Regions from separate parts of the Homo sapiens genome. Here region 2 is reported to be linked to region 1. The links are microRNA targets in miRTarBase. Many come from high-throughput screens and were not tested one by one. Region 1 holds a microRNA gene; the other region holds the end of a gene's coding sequence.

Region 1 (9,011 bases):
TTCTCCGTTAATAACAGCTGGGTGGCTGGGGGAGGAGGGAAGGTGGCCCCGGCGGAGTCTGGGCGGGCGCCTCCCACTCAGCCGCCAGCCGCCGTGGGAGCCGGAGGATGGCGGCGGTAGCAGCGGCCGCCCGAGAGGAGGCGGTGCCGAGATCGGGGGCGCCGAGCGCGGCAGCAGAGAGCGGTAGCGGCCCGTCGTGGCGCACCAGAACCGAAACCAGCGGCAGCCGCACGGCCACTTGAGCCGCCCCTTCCTGCTGGAGCCAGCGAGGGGTGCCTGCAGCCGGGACCCCTTCCTCTCCGCGTCTCCTCGTCTCCCGCGCCCGCGTCAGGCCGTCGGCCTCGCCCGCCGCCCCAAGAAGAGCGCGCCGGGCGCCGACTGCCCCTCTGGACGCCGGGCGGCGGCCCTGGACGTGCGGGGGCCTCTCTGGGCCGGCCGCGGCGCCTGGGCCCTGCCCTCTAGCTCCCGCGCTCGCTCCCGCCCTCCCGGCTCTCGGGGCGCAGCGCGCGGGCCCGGCCCGGGGCAGGGCGGACATGGGCGCCAAACAGAGCGGCCCGGCCGCCGCTAACGGCCGCACGCGCGCGTACTCGGGCTCGGATCTACCTTCCAGTAGCAGCGGAGGCGCCAATGGGACCGCGGGCGGCGGCGGGGGCGCTCGGGCCGCCGCCGCGGGGAGGTTCCCGGCTCAGGTGCCCAGCGCGCACCAGCCCAGCGCCTCCGGCGGCGCCGCGGCGGCCGCGGCGGCCCCGGCAGCCCCGGCGGCCCCGCGCAGCCGCTCCCTCGGCGGGGCCGTGGGGAGCGTGGCGTCGGGGGCCCGCGCGGCGCAGTCCCCCTTCAGCATCCCGAACAGCAGCAGCGGCCCGTACGGCTCGCAGGACTCGGTGCACAGCAGCCCTGAGGACGGCGGCGGCGGCCGGGACCGGCCGGTGGGCGGGAGCCCCGGCGGGCCGCGCCTGGTGATCGGCTCCTTACCAGCTCACCTCTCGCCGCACATGTTTGGAGGTACGGACCCCTCTCCGCGCACCCGCGCTCGGTCCTCCCGCGGCTGCACGTGGGCCGTGGCCGCCGGCTATTTTTACCCTTCTCCTTTTCTCCTTCTGCCGGGGCGCCGGGGGCTGCCTCCCGGACCAGCCCGCGTCGGTCTCCATCCTGGAAGAAACCCGGCGCTTAACACCGGCGGTGCCGCTACCGCATAGACGCGTGGTTTTGTTTTTAAACATCCTGAGCACCCTCACCTCAGCGGCTGCCCAGTAGAGAAAGTCTATTTTCCAGTGAGATGACTGGAGCAAATGTTGTTTTACAACAAACCGACGAAACAGCCCTTGTGGTTGTGGTTTTTAGTACCAGGAAGTCAGGAGGAGACCAGTTGCTAAATGTAGTTCTATCTGGGGACTCGAGTGGGGAACAGTTTTTAAAGGCCAAAAGTCAAAGCGTCTCAAATGAACACTGAGTTACCATGTTTGGACCGACTTTTAGTATAAAGCTGTAATCCTGAAATCTGTGTCAGTAGTCCCAGTTACTATGTCATTTTAATTGGATGAATGCGTTAATGAAAAGTTTGTTTTTAAACCTCACTAAACTGCTACTTAAGATCACAGTTAATGTGAGTCCTGCTTAATTTGGAAAGCATTTAAAAAATGGAAAAGTTTCTTAAGGAAGTAAAAATTTTGCACATCTGTCTTCAAGGTACAATAATTGGCTAGGTTCTTTTGAAGAGCAGTGTTGACTAGAGTTAAGGAAAAGTCAGTTGTGAAAAATGGACATTTTTAATAGCAAAGTGATGTACTTTACTACAGAAACAGGAGGAAGTGTGCGTTGTCCTGGGGAAAATGAATCCTACTTCTTCAGTTATGTTTTATGCTGATCTACTTTATTGCAAAACGCTAATAGTAAATGAATCAAGACCACCTCCCCTCTCCCCTTTATGAAAATAAATAGAAGTATAGAAGATAAGCATTCCCATTTCATCGCATTATGTATCTGGTATTAGAAAAATTAGCAACTGAGCACAGATGAGCAGCGAAAACACGATCCCCTACATTTTTGTGCCGCTTTTACTTATATATTTGTAAACGTAGGAACTTTGGAGACTTAGTAAAGTGGAATACGTAGTAATTTATCCGTTCTCATGTTCTGTACTATCAGCACACACGCCAGCATAAATTAAAAACAGGAATGTCATGTTTCATTTTTCCCATTTTTTTAGTAACGCTTTGCAAATTCAATTGGAACGACGCTTGACTTTTAATTAGCTACCTTGTTTTAAAGTAATTTTTGCTTCTTAAAAATATTCATCCCTCTTAAAATTGGGCTATTTTTAAAAGTCATTTGCTTTTGATTTTGAGTAAAAGAACTCTACTGGTGTCCTTAAAGTGATTTGATCACAACTAACCTAACAGTTGAAGTTGCTGTAGTCCGCACTGAAGAATATAAAAGGCAGTTTCTGAGAATTGGTGATTAGTGCGAGAATGAAGGGCAAACTGGTTTTTAATGTTTATCATTATCTTTTTAAAGTGAAAATTTGCATTTAGCAATTATTAGAAGATGAATATTTAAGTTTGCTAAAGAAGGGTGAATAGGAAAAGCCTTGTCAAGTTAATAGTTAATATTTATTTAATATGCTGATTTCTAAAAATTCATTTTCTAAGAGCTGATAATTCCCTTTGAGAAACATTATAGTTCTGTGGGTTTATTTTGTTAAGTAAATGCATTCTATTCAGAGCAAGAGACAGTTGAGCCCCATGCTATTCCTAGTAAGTAAAAATACCTAGTTGCTTAAAGTTGGAGATAAAGCATTTATCTTTTTTCTTATCTAAGTTCTAGATTTGTGCACTCATTATAGTTCTTTTAGTGCTGTTGGGGTTGGGTGACTGGGGCCTAGTAGTACAGTGACACTTTCTGAGGAACTTACAGCAGCCTTTCTCACCCGGCTTTCTGGAGACAATTGTGCCGTAGTGTGCAATGAATTTTAACTTTTAGCTCCAGTGCATTTAGAACGGTTTTAGTTATGTATCATTCTTGGAACAATTGAGAAAAGTCACTGAAATAATTTCCTGTGTTTGGTGATTCAGATGAGGAACCTCAGTTGAGAATTGCTGGAAAGACATCAGAGAAATTACCTGTTCTTATTATATGACAGGATCAGATGAAAGTGCCACATCCTGAAATCTCTGTTGAGGCAGGGAGATGGAATACATTTACGTAAAAACCCATCTTAGTGGCATTGCCTTACTGAGATTTTTACCTATATTTTAGTGGACGGGTTATTAGGAAAACAATAGAAGCATGTTTCTCATCATCTTGAGATTTAGGGAGCTAAATGAAGAATCTTATAATTAAAAAAGACTTGACTAGTTCACATTTACTTAACTTTTTAGTATCTATTATAACATTATTGTGTTTATTCAGTTACAAATTGTATAAATGGTTATATACAAATAACTGCATCTGAAAATTGATAAAAGGATTATTTCAGAATTAGTGGAAAGTTCGTATTGTTTTTTGTAAAACTGTTGTTTTAATTGTTGTTTATATTATTAACGTCTCCTAATAAGAAAATGTGGTACTAATAAGATTCAAAATTATTCTCTTGTGAGCTCTCATGTAATTTATAGAAAATGAAAAACAGTCCCCCCCTTTTATTTTTAACACTTAAGAGTCTAGCAAGTGGAATTGTTAGTAGTTCTCTCATAATGAATTGCCACATTGAACGAGGAAGTTTTCTGTGTTGGTTTTATGTTTTGATGTCATTTGGACATCTGTTTTGGCTATATACACTCTTATTCTCTCTAGAGAACTGGAAGAAAAATGCCTAATCCAGATATTTCAGTGTGTAGAAATTTCCTAGAATTGAGTTGCCAGACATCAGAATGTGATTATATTTATATAGGAGTTTTTAGGTGAAGTAAATCTTGTCCTTATTATTCTTTTCAGACTGAGGAGTGTTAAAGTGAACAGACGCTTTCTTGACTACTGCTAGTGTCGTCCATCACCTTTGTTTTAAAACAGGTCTTAAGGGTATTTCCTAATATTTAAAAATGTTGATGGTATTTTAGGGTTTGTTTGGCTTTAATTTACGTCTACGTTTTTTTTTCCACTGTCAAGTAGCTGTTGTTCATAAGAGCATAATATGAGTGGTCAAATAGCCTTTAATGATGCAGCAAGGATGGGGTAGATGAATTGGGCTATAGAAATATACCAATACATGGAGATTATTTCCAGAGAAATCGTGTGGACTTCTATAATGTATCCTTGAGTCCAGAAGTGAAAATGTAAAATGACTTAATCTAAGACAACCAGTGGTGCTGGGTTGCTTTTGGCCTCCTGATTTTCTTGAGCTTTTTTGGGTGTGGCTTGCTCATGAGTATTTCAGTAGTCTGATTGTAACTCAGGTGCCTTGCTACTTGTGAAACATGTTTTCTTATATTGAAGGAGTGTGGGTTATCTCTTAAAACTGAATATGTTGAATAAGACCTGTATTTCTAGGAAGATTTCTCTTAATTTTTAAGGCAGATGTGAAGTTTTATGGTGTTAGGTTATCTTCATCAATTAACCATTATGGAATCGGTCTCAGTTATCACTTCTTACCAATATCAAGTGCCAAAATGTTTGAATTTGGGATATTGTAATTAATCTATTTCCTATTCCTGAATGTTATTTTGTGCCATTGAAGGCTTTTATGGGGAGTGGCCGAAGAGGAATGTTTGCCTCTTTCTAAGAAAAATGAGCCTTCTAACCACAACCCCTGCCACTCCTGAAGTAATAAGAATTTTGGTGGTTATTGTTCCTCACTTGTAATTTCATACCTTCGTGTTACATGTTTTGCTGTGTGTAAGTGTGGCCTGTGTCATGGAAGTTTCTGCTTTGGGAATTTTTTGGAATTATTCTTGACTGCAAGGTGGGGAGGATTGGTGAGTTGCACAGGGCATCACCTGATCTGAGAGCAGCGTGACCTAAGAACCTGGTATTTTGATGCTTTGCTGGCTGGTGCAGTGCCTGAGGGAGTAAGAGCCCTGTTGTTGTAAGATAGTGTCTTACTCCCTCAGGCACATCTCCAACAAGTCTCTTGCTCTCCTCCAATTTGATCGCTTTGCCTGGTGACCAGTAACTAAGTTCTTCTGATTACCAAATATCATTAATGAGATATCAACTTTTAAACTATTTATTATTATTTGGGTTTTAAGGAGAATTGCCCTAATATTAAACTTATTACATGTAGTATTATGTATAATTGGGTATATTGGCAAATGTGTTAAAAGAGAGTGTAGGAACTGCTTTATGTAGCAAATTACTTCCTAAGTTTTATGTGAATATTCTTAAGAACTGTTATTTGAAATGTTAGTCTGTGTTTTAATTTTGCATGTACATGACATTTATTTGTTAAGAAATTGGACAAAACATAGGCCTTTTTGTGAACAAAGGGTTCAGAAATACCTTAGGTTCTGATTTTATTCGTTTTCTAAGCTGCTTATTCACAAATGACTGCAAATTTAGTGGTTCTAAGCAACACGTTTATTGCCTTGCAATTTCTGTGGGTCAAGAGGCTGGGCACAACTTAGCTGTGTCCTCTTTAAGACTGCAGTCAAAGTGTAGGTCAGGGCAGGGTTGTTATCTAGTGACTCAACTGGGGAAAGGTCTGCCCACAGACTTCCTTGGGTTATTGGCTGAATTTATTTCCTTGTGTCTGTTAGGTTCAGAGCAGCTTGCTTCTTCAAAGTAAGCAAAGGAAAGGTGAACTGGTGCTATGTTCTTACATAATCGTGTACATGTAATCACATACAACCCATTGCCTTTGCTGTATTTCATTCATTAGAAGCAAGTCATAGGTCCAGTTCACGTGCAAGGGGAGGGAATTATACAAAGGTTTAAACACCAGGAAGTGTAGGAATCAAGAATAGTCACATCAGTTCTTTCTGCCACATGGATTATAGATAGATTGACAGCTGAACATGTAACTTCTTTTTTAAACTCATTTTAATTTACTTTTAAAAAGTTGTACTAATGCATATGGTTAAGTATAGCATTAATAAACATGAACTTAACCCCTTTTAGGGGCTGGACATTATAGATACTGAGGGTACAAATATGGAGCTTCTTTATGCACTGCTCAACTCTCCATTGAATTTGAGAGATGGATATATGTGATCATTATACAATGCAACAAATTCTGTAATAGAACTGTTAACAAAACACTTAGTGAAGTATCTTTGTCTAGGCTGGTCAAAAAATGCTTCACAGAGGAGGGTACGTTTGAACTGTAGTTTGAAGGATTTAGAAGTTGTACGGAGAGAGGGCAGTACAGACTAAAGAAAAATCCACAAAAGTGTGGGTTTTGATAGGGCATACTGAAAAGTTAAATATGTCTGGATTGTAGGGTGCATAGAGGAATGATGAGAACCTGAAGCTAGAAAAATAGAAAGTGGAGCCAGTTGAAAGATTTTATAGTGCTGTAGGTTTGTTTTATCTAATGAAGTTTGAAAGCAGGGGGAGTATCATGATTAGGCCATTGGGCACAATTAACACTCGTAGTTTACATGGATGGCAACCTTCTCTAGTGGTGCAGACTTCAGGCTGTATGCAGCAACCCTGATCAGGATTCAGTTCTTAAGGAGGAGAGTGTGATAGCAGGAGAATAAGTTAGGATTCTTTTAAAATATAACTGATAGAAGATGCCTATGTTGAAAACATGGCATTGGTGAGGGAGAAGAAAAGTTAGATTTGATTGAGATTTCTAAGCTAGAACTGATAGAATTGACCTGGGTACATAGTGATGTCTTTAACCAGTATTAAAGATGAAAAGAACAAGTTTTAGGAAATGATAATGAGTTCCTTTCAGGCCTGTTAAATTTGAGTGGCTACAGGATTTTCATCTGGATAGAAGTATACTTTAAGTGGTTGGAAACATGAGTCTCTAATTCAGGATATTACAAAAAACTGAGAAATCAATTTGCAAGTTATAAATGAATCCAGAAAGTGGATAAGATTACTAAGGGATGAATATAGATTGACGAAGGACAAGGATGGAATCCAGAGGAGCAAGTATTTTAAGAGACAGGGAGAGGAAGAGGCCAGCAGTTAGAATTCAACCAGAGGGAAAGGAAGTTTTTTAAAAACCTGGGTTTTTTTTTAATTATAAAAATAATACCTGTTCACTAGAGAAAAACTAACATACGGAAAAGCAGGTATAAAAATCGCAAATTGCTTGTAATTTTACCACCAGAAATAACTGTTAATGTCTTTTATATATGTATTTGTTTTAGACACAAAATTTGGAACATTCATTTTTATATTGTTTTGATTTTAACCTTTCTGATGTTCTAATACAAAGTTTTAAAGCTACACATTTTCCTCCAAGAATTGCTTTACCTGAATCCCACTGATGTTGAAGTGTTCTTGTTAACATTCAGTGAAAAATGTATTTTAATTTCCCATATGATTTCTTCTTGATCCATGGGTTACATATTCTTTGATAACATGCTGTTTCCATTTCCACCAGTTTCTAACATCACATTAAAATTTTTTATAACATGATTTTTAATTATTACCCAGTATTCCAAAAATCACTCAAATATTTAATGAGGACGCGCTTTTCCGGACACTATTCTGGGGGTACAGCAGTGAAGAAATAAGATAAAAATCCCTGCTTTTAGGGGCCTTATTATTCTATTTGGGAGAGATAGTAAACAGACAAGTAAAATACATAGTGTGTTAGGGCATTGAGTGTAATGGAAAAAAAATGGAGTGCAAAGGCTGATAGAGATTCTGGGGTGGAGGCCTATCTATAGTTGCTATTTTAAATCGGGTTTTAAGGATGACCTCACTGACAAGGTGACAATTCAAGCAGAAAGTGAAGGAGCAAGTCATGAGGATCTCTGGGGTAAAAACATATTCAGGCACAGGGAGCAGTAACTATAAAGGCCCTGAGGCATGAGTGTACCTGATATGTAGGTTTACTTACAGCTGGAGTGCAGAGGGCTGTAGAAGATGAGAGCATAGTGGGGTGGCATGAGGTTGGGACAGAATCATAAACTGCCTCATAACCACTGACCTGTGGTTTGCGGCTTTTGTTTTAAAGAGGGATGGGGAGTATTTTTGTGCAGAGGATTGACATAATCTGACTTGGGTTTTAAAGGATTACTCTGGCTATTGTGTGAGGTGGCAAGAGTCAGCAAGGAGGCAAAAATCCAGATGAAAGATAACAGTGGCTTGGACTGGGTGGCAGTGCTGGAGGTGCTAAGCAGTGGCCAGATTCTGCATATCCCGTGTTTTGAAGATAGAGCCACCTGGATTAGATGTGGAGGTATGAGAGAAAATGAAGAGTCAAGGATTTATTTCGTTGTTCCTTATGGTTGAGCATTTTGTTTGTTTGGTACAGATGTAATAAAATACTGTTGCCATGAACACCCTGGTAAGCAAATTTTTACATTTTTTTTTTTTTTTTTTGGGATGGAGTCTTGCTCTGTCACCCAGGCTACAGTGCAGTAGTGCGATCTTGGCTCACTGCAACCTCTGCCTCCCAGGTTCAAGTGATTCTTGTGCCCCAGCCTCCCAAGTAGCTGGGATTACAGGTGTGCACCACCATGCCTCACTAATTTTTGTATTTTTAGTAGAGACTGGGTTTTGCCATGTTGGCCAGGCTAGTCTTGAGCTCTTGGCCTCAAGTGATTCGCCCACCTCAGCCTCCCAAAGTGCTGGGATTACAGGCCTGAGTGCCCGGCCAGTTCTTAGAAATTTATCAGCGACATGGGATTGCCAGAAACAAAGATACACTTTTGTTCAAGGCATTGGATCTTTATTGCCAAATTGCTCATTAGAGATGGAAACAGCTTCTAGCAAGGTATAATCTTTGGGACTACGTAAAATTTTTTAACCCATAAAAACTTGTGAGGTTTTTGATATTTATAAGTGCAGATTGGTGGATATATTTCGAGTAATGTCACCTATCAGAGTCATTATTTCATTCAGGGCTCTTTTTTTAGCGACGAAAATATTAGTGTGTCAGAAAATTATAG
Region 2 (9,011 bases), not on the chromosome of region 1:
TAGGGATAATAGCTAAAGGATACAGGGTTTCTTCCTGAGGTGCTGAAAATGTTCTAAAGTTGACAGTAGTGATGGTTGTACATATCTGTGGATATGCTAAAAACCATTGATTGCATTCTTTAATGGAGCATTTCAAATGTTTGTATGGTATGTGAATTATATCTCTATAAAGCTGTTAAAAATAAAAGTGGAAAATCCACAGAAATGGGAGAAAATAATTGCAAATCACATATCTGCTAAAGATCTAATATCCAGAATATATTAACTCTTAAACTCAAAACAAAAAGAAAAGAACCCAATTTAAAATGGGCAAAGGGTCTGAACACAGTAGCTCACGCCTGTAATCCCAGTGCTTTGGGAGGCCAAGTGGGAGGATCGCTTGAGCCCAAGAGTTTGAGGCTGCAGTCAGCTATGCTCATGCCACTGTACTCCAGCCTGGGTGACAGAGCAAGACCCTGTCTCTTAAATAAACAAATAAATAAAATGGGCAAAGGGCTGAAGTAGACTTTTTTCCAAAGATAATCTAATGGCCAACAAGTACATAAAAGTATGCTCTACATCATCTGTCATTAAGGAATGGAATCCAAAATCACAATGAGATACCATTTCATGCCTACTAGGATGTCTATAAAACAAACACACAAACCAGAAAATAACAAGTGTTGGCAAGGACGTGGAGAAACTGGAGCCCTCACACATTACTAGTGGAAATGTAAAATGGTGCAGCCACTAAGAAAAAGTTTGGTAGCTCCTCAGAAAGTTAAACATACAATTACCATATGATTCAGTGATTCCACTCCTAGGTATATACCAAAGAGTACTGAAATTAGGTGTTCAAACTAAAATGTGTAAGTGAAATGTTCATAGCCGCACTATTCACACTAGCCAAAAGGTGAAAACAACCAAAATGTCCACCAACTGATATATGGATAAATTGTGGTATATCCATACAATGGAATATTTGGGCATGAAGAGGAATAAAATGATGATACATACAACATGGATGAATCTTATTTATTAATTTTTTTTTTAACACGGAGTCTCGCTCTTGTCACCCAGGCTGGAGTGCCATGGTGCAGTCTAGGCTCGTTAGAACCTCTGCCTCCCGAGTTCCAGCGATTCTCATGCCTCAGCCTCCCAAGTAGCTGGGATTACAGGCACCTGCCACCATGCCTGGTTAATTTTTATATTTTTAGTAGAGATGGGGTTTCACCATGTTGACCAGGCTGGTCTGAAACTCCTGACTCAAGTGATCCACCTGCCTCGGCCTCCCAAAGTGCTGGGAGTACAGGCATGAGCCACTGCACCCGGCCTAACATGAATGAATTAGTAAGTGAAAGGACCCTGCTTGGTGTCGTAGCTCATGCTTGTAATTCCCAGCTACCTGGGAGGCTGAGGTGACATGATTGCTTAAGTCCAGGAGTTCCAGGATGCAGTGAGCTGTGATCACACACTGCTGCACTCAACCCTGAGTGACACAGTAAGACCCTGTCTGTTTAGAAAAACAAAAAAGCCAGATACAAAAAGCAACATATTGTATGTTTCCAAATGTCCAGCATATAAGCAAATCCAGAGACAGAAAGCAATAGGTTCTCATGGGTTGGAGAGAGGAAAAAAAGGAGTGACTTTTTAATGGGTACGAGGTTTCTTCTGGGAGTGATGAAAATGTTCTAGTGTTACATAGTGATGATGGTTGCACAACATTGTGAATGTACTGGAAGCCACCTAGTTGTATACTTTGAAAGGGTTAAAGTGGTAAATTTTATGTTATGTGAATTTTACTACAATTTTTTTAAACGTTGGCGGAAAAAAAGCAACAAAAAGCTGAACAATAGGCAGAACCTAGCAAGCTTGATATTGAATTATTTCCAAACCCAGTTCTCTGGTCAAGCAAAGTTGCAATAGAACTTTTCCCTTACCAGGGGCAGCTCTCTAGCTGAGTCCCAAATCCTGCCTTGCTAAAATCAATTAATAGAGTTCTTGGTGTCTGCCCTAATCATCATGCACAGAAAAAATTTAGTTAATATCCTTTTCTCCCTCCCCAACACTGAAAAATAAGATAAATAGAATCTATCTCCATAATTTTACTTACTCATTTAGTTCAGTAGCATCTGTTTATCATGATTTACAAGAATTTGGCTGGCAATGAGAGTTGCAGAAAGCATTTGCATAAAGGAATTTTATTTACATATTTTTCCTCCTTAAGCACTAGGGTACTCGAAATGGTCACATCTTGGAAATTCAGGCAAGTGCCAGTGGTGATTACCAGTTTAAAAAAAAAAAAAAAAAAAAAACAGGCCATGCATAGTGGCTCACGGCTGTAATCCCAGCACTTTGGGAAGCTGAGGGCAGGTGGATCACCTGAGGTCAGGAGTTCAAGACCAGCCTGGCCAACATGGGGCGAAAACCTGTGTCTACTAAAAATACAAAAATTAGCCGGGTGTGGTGGCGGGCGCCTGTAATCCCAGCTACTCGGGAGGCTGAGGCAGGAGAATCACTTGAACCTGGGAGGCGGAGGTTGCAGTGAGCCGAGATTGTGCCACTGTACTCCAGCCTGGGACAAAGCGAGACTCCATCTCAAAAAAACACAGTGGATGGTCATTAAGCAGTGAAAAACATTTATAGCTATTCAATTTAGAAGACAAACTTAAGGATTAGTCTATTAAAGTATGGAAAACCAAATAAAAATAAAACTGAAATACTGGTTCCTGTTGATATGGCTTGCCTACTAAGTGTGTGAGGAGAGGAAATTTTACTTTTTTTTTTTTTTTTTTTTTTGAGACTGAGTCTGGCTGTTGCCCAGGCTGGAGAGCAGTGGCACAATCTCTGCTCATGGCAACTTCCGCCTCCCAGGTTCAAATGATTCTCCTGCTTCTCCTGCCTCAGCCTCCCGAGTAGCTGGGATTACAGGTACACACCACCACACCTGTCTAATTTTTGTATTTTTAGTAGAGACTGGGTTGGGTTTCACCATTTTGGCCAGGCTGGTCCCAAACTCCTGACCTCAAGTGATTCGCCCACCTTGGCCTCCCAAAGTGCTGGGATTACAGGTGTGAGCCACTGAGCCCGGCTGAAATTTGACTTTCCTAGCATAAGCCCACAGAATAGTCTGTCCTTGGGCATTTGACTAGAACAGAAAACAATTATCTACAATATTTTTTTTCCTCTGAAACTCTAAAGCTTAATTCCATGTTCGTACTTGTGAGTACTGATTATAACTTCAGAATTCTTTTTTTTTTCTTTTGAGTCAGAGTCTCGCTCTCTTGCTGAGGATGGAGTGCAATGGCACGATCTTGGCTCACTGCAGCCTCCACCTCCCAGGTTCAAGCAATCCTTGAGCCTCAGCCTCCCAAGTAGCTGAGATTACAGGTGTGCCACCAGGCCTGGCTAATTTTTGTATTTTTAGTAGAGATGGGGTTTCACCATGTTGGCCAGGCTGGTCTCAAACTCATGACCTCAGGTGATCCACCCCCCTCGGCCTCTCAAAGTGCTGGGATTACAGGCATGAGCCACTGCTCCCGGCCAGAATTCTTTGTATAATAAAATTATGTTTATCTCCCATATATATAGTTAAGTGAAAAAGGCAGGGTAAAAAGAGTATGTAGTAAGTAGTATGCTACCATTTATCTGAAAGGCAATAGGAGGCTAACAAGGCCTAATTTTTTATTTTTTGTAGAGACAGGGTCTCACTATGTTGCCCAGGATGGTTTTGAACTCCTGGGCTCAAGCAATCCTCCCGCCTCAGCTTCCCAAAGTGCTGGGATTATAGGTATGAGCCAACCGCGCCCAGCCTAATTATACTGAAGCCATATTATATGTACTATAATTCTGTGTTACTATATAATTATTATGTAATTATAATTTTATATTACATATTAATTTGATATTATATATTTTAATATATAACTATATTATATAATTTAAATATACAATTTTATATTCTATATTATATGTATTATACTATATACATATTATAATTCTGAAGCCATATGTATACATAGCCACATTATTTTTACATATAAATACCAATATGTATATGTATGCATGTGTATACATGTATATATACACAAATATACTAACAATTAATAGATAGATATAAAAGAAATGTTTTGAAAGCAAAGCACTTGGGAGAAATGGCTGACTCCAGGCTTAGGGTAGAGAATGTGTAAGAGTGAGCCTGTAACATTGGATCTTACCAGAAAACAAAAGAAGCTACCAAAGACCACACTGGGGCCAAATTTTAATGCTAATAGTTGCATATGTAGTGTAAGTGCTACCATACAAAACAAAATACAGATTAGAAAAAAACAAAATGTTCATGGCTTTCAGCTTTGAGTGGTATCTCTTTTGTTCCTTGCTCCTTCCCTCAAATGCTTACATCACCTGGATGTTATAACAGATAAAGGACTTTCTCTGGAATGTGCCAGTTCCTCTGCAACCAGGAGTCCATCCCTTACAGTCCCAGTCAGATTGCTGGCTCTTTATTGCCACCCCAAGCTCTAGTCCCTCTTCCGTTGTCTCACAGCAACGGCTCCTAGAAAGTTTTCTTGCCCCCTGCTTTTCCTCCTCCTTCCCCAACCTTGTAGTTATCTAAGGAGTCCTCTCCACCCACAGGATTCCCATGCCCTTCAGTTAAAACCTCGGGGGTTTCTAACATCCATGTAGGATCATCCAAAGCCCTGGTTTCCTACTGTCCCACTGCCTCATTCCTTCTGAACCTGCTCTCCACCCATCTTCGCCCCCAGTGCAACCCCCTGATCCACACAAACGCTCAGACCCCTTCCAGCCCTGCCAGCCTCCCTGTTCAGCAGGGTTTCTACAGTAAGCCACATCAGCCAGGCTGTACCCAGCACCCAAGATGCCCTTGTTCTCCCTGCCAGAACCTTATCAACAACCCGCTCTTCTTTGACTCCTAAGGCAAAGTCAGCTTAAAGAGGGAAAAAAAGAATAAAGTCCTCTCTCTGGTGTTTGGCCTAGCTTTGCCTCTTTGGAGCTGTGTGATACTGGGCATTTTTCTCAACTTATCTGGATTTACTTCCCCATTCTTTCAGACATCTAATGGATGTGAGGTTAGCATTAACATAAAACCTCCTATTCCCCTCAGGACTGAGTACCTAATACTGTCCCCATACTCCCATCTTCTCCTAAAGCACTGAGACCTCTAGTTCCATTCTCCCAGTGACCTCATTTCCTTCCTGGGGCAATCAGAAGTCCCCTCTCACTTTCTTCTAAAAGCAAAATGAAACAAAAACAAAACCTTCCAGCAAAACCCTCTAACTGCAGCCTTTGCCCTTCATTGTGAAAGCCTTTTTAGTTCGTATGTCATTTCTTAACTCCTAAGTAAGAATCAAAACGTAAATACCATCTCTACCTCAGAAAACTCTACCTCAGGTTGAAGAAACAAATATGAAAGCAGTTCCTGGGGCACAGCCACCCTAACACCATTTTTTGCAGCTAGCTGTGAAAACCGGAGTTCTCTCCACTCAGGATGGCCTGTGGAGCTCTGCAGTGGGCCCCGTGGGCTCCCACAGTCAAGGCTGAGGCTGAGCAACTGACCTAAGGCTCCTTATTATAAAATGGGATCATCACAAAACCCAGGAGCTCACCCATGTTTTAAAATGTCTGGTGATGGGAAAATGCCAATTTGTTTTTTTCCCTTCATTCCTGCTGAGAACATTATTTTTGGGTTTTCATCTTAGTTCCCCCATTAGATTGTAAATCCTTTAAGGATAAGGCATCCAAATCAACTGTTACAGTTAATTTTTAATGAAAACCACCATTAGTTCTACTTCCTATTAAAACATGGTATCACCTGAACTTTTCCAAATAAGCATCAATTTATATGAACTCTAAACATTTAAGCTTCCCAATTACATATCCAATAAGGTTGGATTATAATTTGGGTTAAGATCCAAAAAGTTTACAAAAACAAAGTTACTGATTTCTTTTGGATCTACACAGAATACCAGTTGTACAATTTCACTTAGCTTGTTCTTCTCCCCAGATGAGCATGGGGTAAACATGGCTTCTCAAATAACTCTAGAGCAGACACAGTAAACTTTTTCTGTAAAGTGCCAGGTTGTAAATATCTTAGGTTTTGTGAACCATATTGTCTCTGCTTATTTAACAACCCTTTCCAAATGGAAAAAAAAATACTTAGTTCATATGCCATACGAATAAACTCTGCAGCAGCATGTAGCCCACAGGCTGTAGTTTGCCAATCCCTGGTCTAAAGAATTGGACAGCCGGTGTGGTGGTGGCTCTTGCCTGTGACTTTGGGAGGCCAAGGCAGGAGGATCCCTTGAGCCCAGGAGTTTGAAACCAGCCTGAGCAACATAGCAAGACCTGTCTCTACAAAAAATAAAAAAAGAATTGGGCTATGAGAGCTTTTAGACCATGCCTTTTTTGTTGATTCTCACAGTCCTGGAACAAGCCTCAAGGCACAGCATGCATTTAATATATGTTTGAATGGTTGATAAAAGTAAGCCAGGTATTGCAAAGCACATCATAAAGGAAAAGAAAACACTACAAAACTTCATGGGCACATATTGTTTTCTATCAGGCACTGTGGTTGTCTCCGCCCGTTTTCTGATCACAGGTATTAGTCCTGTCACCTAGTGAGGTCCTTTCAAACAAGCTGACCTTAGAACTTCAGAAACTTCAGTCAAAAGGGAGACTTTTTTAGAAAAGGTGGAAATGGCCTTTTATTTAAATATGAGGAAAAAATTAGAATTAAGTACAGTAAGATTATTTTTAAAAAAGCAGACAAGTTAGAACAAACATTTTATTATTAAAATAAACTTTTGTATAAAAGCATTACAGATCAAAAGCTGTATTTACACTTATCGATTCAAGGTCCAATTATGCATCAAACATTGAATGGCACAGCAATGGTTTACATATGCAAGTAAATTGGACATACAAACACTTAGATTCCACCTCTACCAAATACCTTGATTAATGCAAAGAGGAGGGGGAATACTGACACAGGAAACCTGCCCAGAAACTAGACTGGCAGAGATGTCAGGTTAACAAACTGCTAAAAGTTACATCTCCAAAAAGGCACTTATCATTGTTATAAAAGTGCTTAAAATCTAAACTTGAACCTTGTGCCTGGTTTATAAATTTACAAGAAACTGCAAAGAACCACAGACTAGTTTTTAATATCAAGTTTCCATACAAAATTGTCCAAGAATTTATTTGCAATACCTTACATGTGAACTGAAATAAACTTTGCAAACTACAATTATACTAAAGTTTTATACTGAAAATTCAAATCAGCTTACTCATAATCTCCAGATAGCTCTTCCATCATTATTTTAATTAAGTATTACATTGCCCACCAACCTTTGAATTATGATTGTGTAAGCTGGACGCACCACTTACCCTTCGGGCAGAAGAAATTAGGAGAAATTAAGTCTCAACTGTGACAACAACTTGTAACATAAGCGCAATACATGGGATTGAGAGACATCAATCTGCAATAATTACCTAATTTTTCCACATGGTTTTAAGACTTTTGTGCCTTGATTCTATTAAAAATTTCAACTAGTATGAATGCTAAATCATACTCGTTTTTGTGTAAACAAGTTAGAAGGCTCTTCTCTGAAATTCAATAGATCTAGTTAGTTAATACTATTATTGTGTTTCCAAGTGCTTAGGTTTTATGAGGGCTATTTCAACACCAAGTAAATAAAATATGCTTTCATAAAACTGTAATTTAAAAGAAATTCAGAAACTAAGCGGTTGGAGAGGAGCATTGGAAATAGAGGGGGATGCTGTGAGATGGGGGTTGGGAGCAGAGAAGAAACTGCAGGAGGGCAAAGTGTAACTAGCAATATACCTTCTGTGATGCTCCAGAAACACATGTCTGCTAAGATTAACTTGATTGGAGTTTCTTATGAAACAGGCTGATCATCAAGATTTTTAACTCAGGTTTCAGTGAAAAAATTGGAAACTTTTACAAGAAAGATTTGAGAAGTAGAAGGCAGGCAGCAAATTTTCCAGATATTATGCTTGCATTTCAAATTCCTGTTTCAGGCTGTGAAAAACAAAAGGAAATGTGTCAGGACATAGTTTTCAACCAAAGAATTCTCTTTTGAAAGCCTAATTCATTTTTAAAACCATTTTTATTGAGTTATAACATCACTATGGTCAAGTGTGCGCATCTTCAAGTATATTACCTGACTTTTTCATACACACCCACCCACCCGGGTTACCACCACCTAAGTGAAGACAGAAAATGTTCCCATCCCTTCCAGTGTGCCCCGTTCCAGTCAGTCTCCACCCCGCCAGAGATAACCACTCTTCTGACATCTATCATCTTCTCATTAAGACATAAATGAATATAAAATTCAGATGTGGAAGGGAAAAAAAAACACCCACTACCTTTTCAAGTAGGCATGCACATTCCCAAAGCCATGATATTTGGCTAAATACACAAGGACCCCAGTCGCACACCGTCCATCTCGCTGCCGGCAGAAACTGCAGTTGCAGATTCCTCGACAAGGCGGGCAATGCCAGTTCTGAAGGAGGATTGTCAAACGGCACAATTAAGTTAAACCTTACCTCCCCCACCAACTTATCTACATTACATTTAACCCCTTCTTTATGGTTAAAAATTTATATGATTAATAGGCATTAGTCATGCCTAATGTTTCCTAATGCCTAATGCTTCCTTCCAGGAGTGGAAGTTACAAGCAGCTACCAGGGATAAATGGAGCAGCAACTTCCCAGGGACAGTTCAGACCCGAGTATCGTAGAAGCGGCTCATGCCTATGCAGCACCATCCCTCTGAATTCATTTGTGTTCTGAATTAAGAGCACCCTGGGCCGGGCGTGGTGGCTCACACCTGTAATCCCAGCACTTCAGGAGGCCGAGGCGGGTGGATCACGAGGTCAAGAGATCTTGTACCACCACACCATCCTGGCCAATGTGGTGAAACCCCGTCTCTACTAAAAATACAAAAATTAGCTAGGTGTGGTGGCGCGTGCCTGTAGTCCCAGCTACTT

What was found. The annotated mature microRNA hsa-miR-550a-5p reads AGUGCCUGAGGGAGUAAGAGCCC and lies in region 1 at 4,991-5,013, shown strand. An mRNA with a match to its seed (bases 2 to 7 or 8) in the 3' UTR can be bound and repressed. Matches are read on the target gene's strand: a 7mer-m8 pairs with bases 2 to 8, a 7mer-A1 pairs with bases 2 to 7 and ends in A, and an 8mer does both.
Region 2: miRTarBase lists CDCA7 as a target of hsa-miR-550a-5p. Seed matches in the 3' UTR shown: 7mer-A1 at 7,521-7,527 and 8mer at 7,109-7,116.

Annotation. Positions count from the first base shown.
Region 1 is chr7:30,284,825-30,293,835 of GRCh38, forward strand. MIR550A1 (microRNA 550a-1) reads left to right here and starts at 4,970; the gene lies at 4,970-5,066. ZNRF2 (zinc and ring finger 2) reads left to right here. Exons shown (of 5, transcript NM_147128.4): 1 at 1-1,002. The coding sequence starts at 534. MIR550B1 (microRNA 550b-1) reads right to left here and starts at 5,066; the gene lies at 4,970-5,066. It overlaps LOC105375218 (a long non-coding RNA gene), which reads right to left and starts at 1,261. Exons shown (of 4, transcript NR_136267.1): 1 at 1,236-1,261. RefSeq lists silencers at 1-48, 59-108, 189-578, 659-738, 889-1,018.
Region 2 is chr2:173,366,664-173,375,674 of GRCh38, reverse strand. It overlaps CDCA7 (cell division cycle associated 7), which reads right to left. Exons shown (of 10, transcript NM_031942.5): 9 at 8,389-8,525; 10 at 6,678-8,041. The coding sequence ends at 8,011. Among named protein-coding and RNA genes, the nearest start is that of CDCA7, 16 kb to the right of the region's middle. RefSeq lists an enhancer at 5,227-5,326.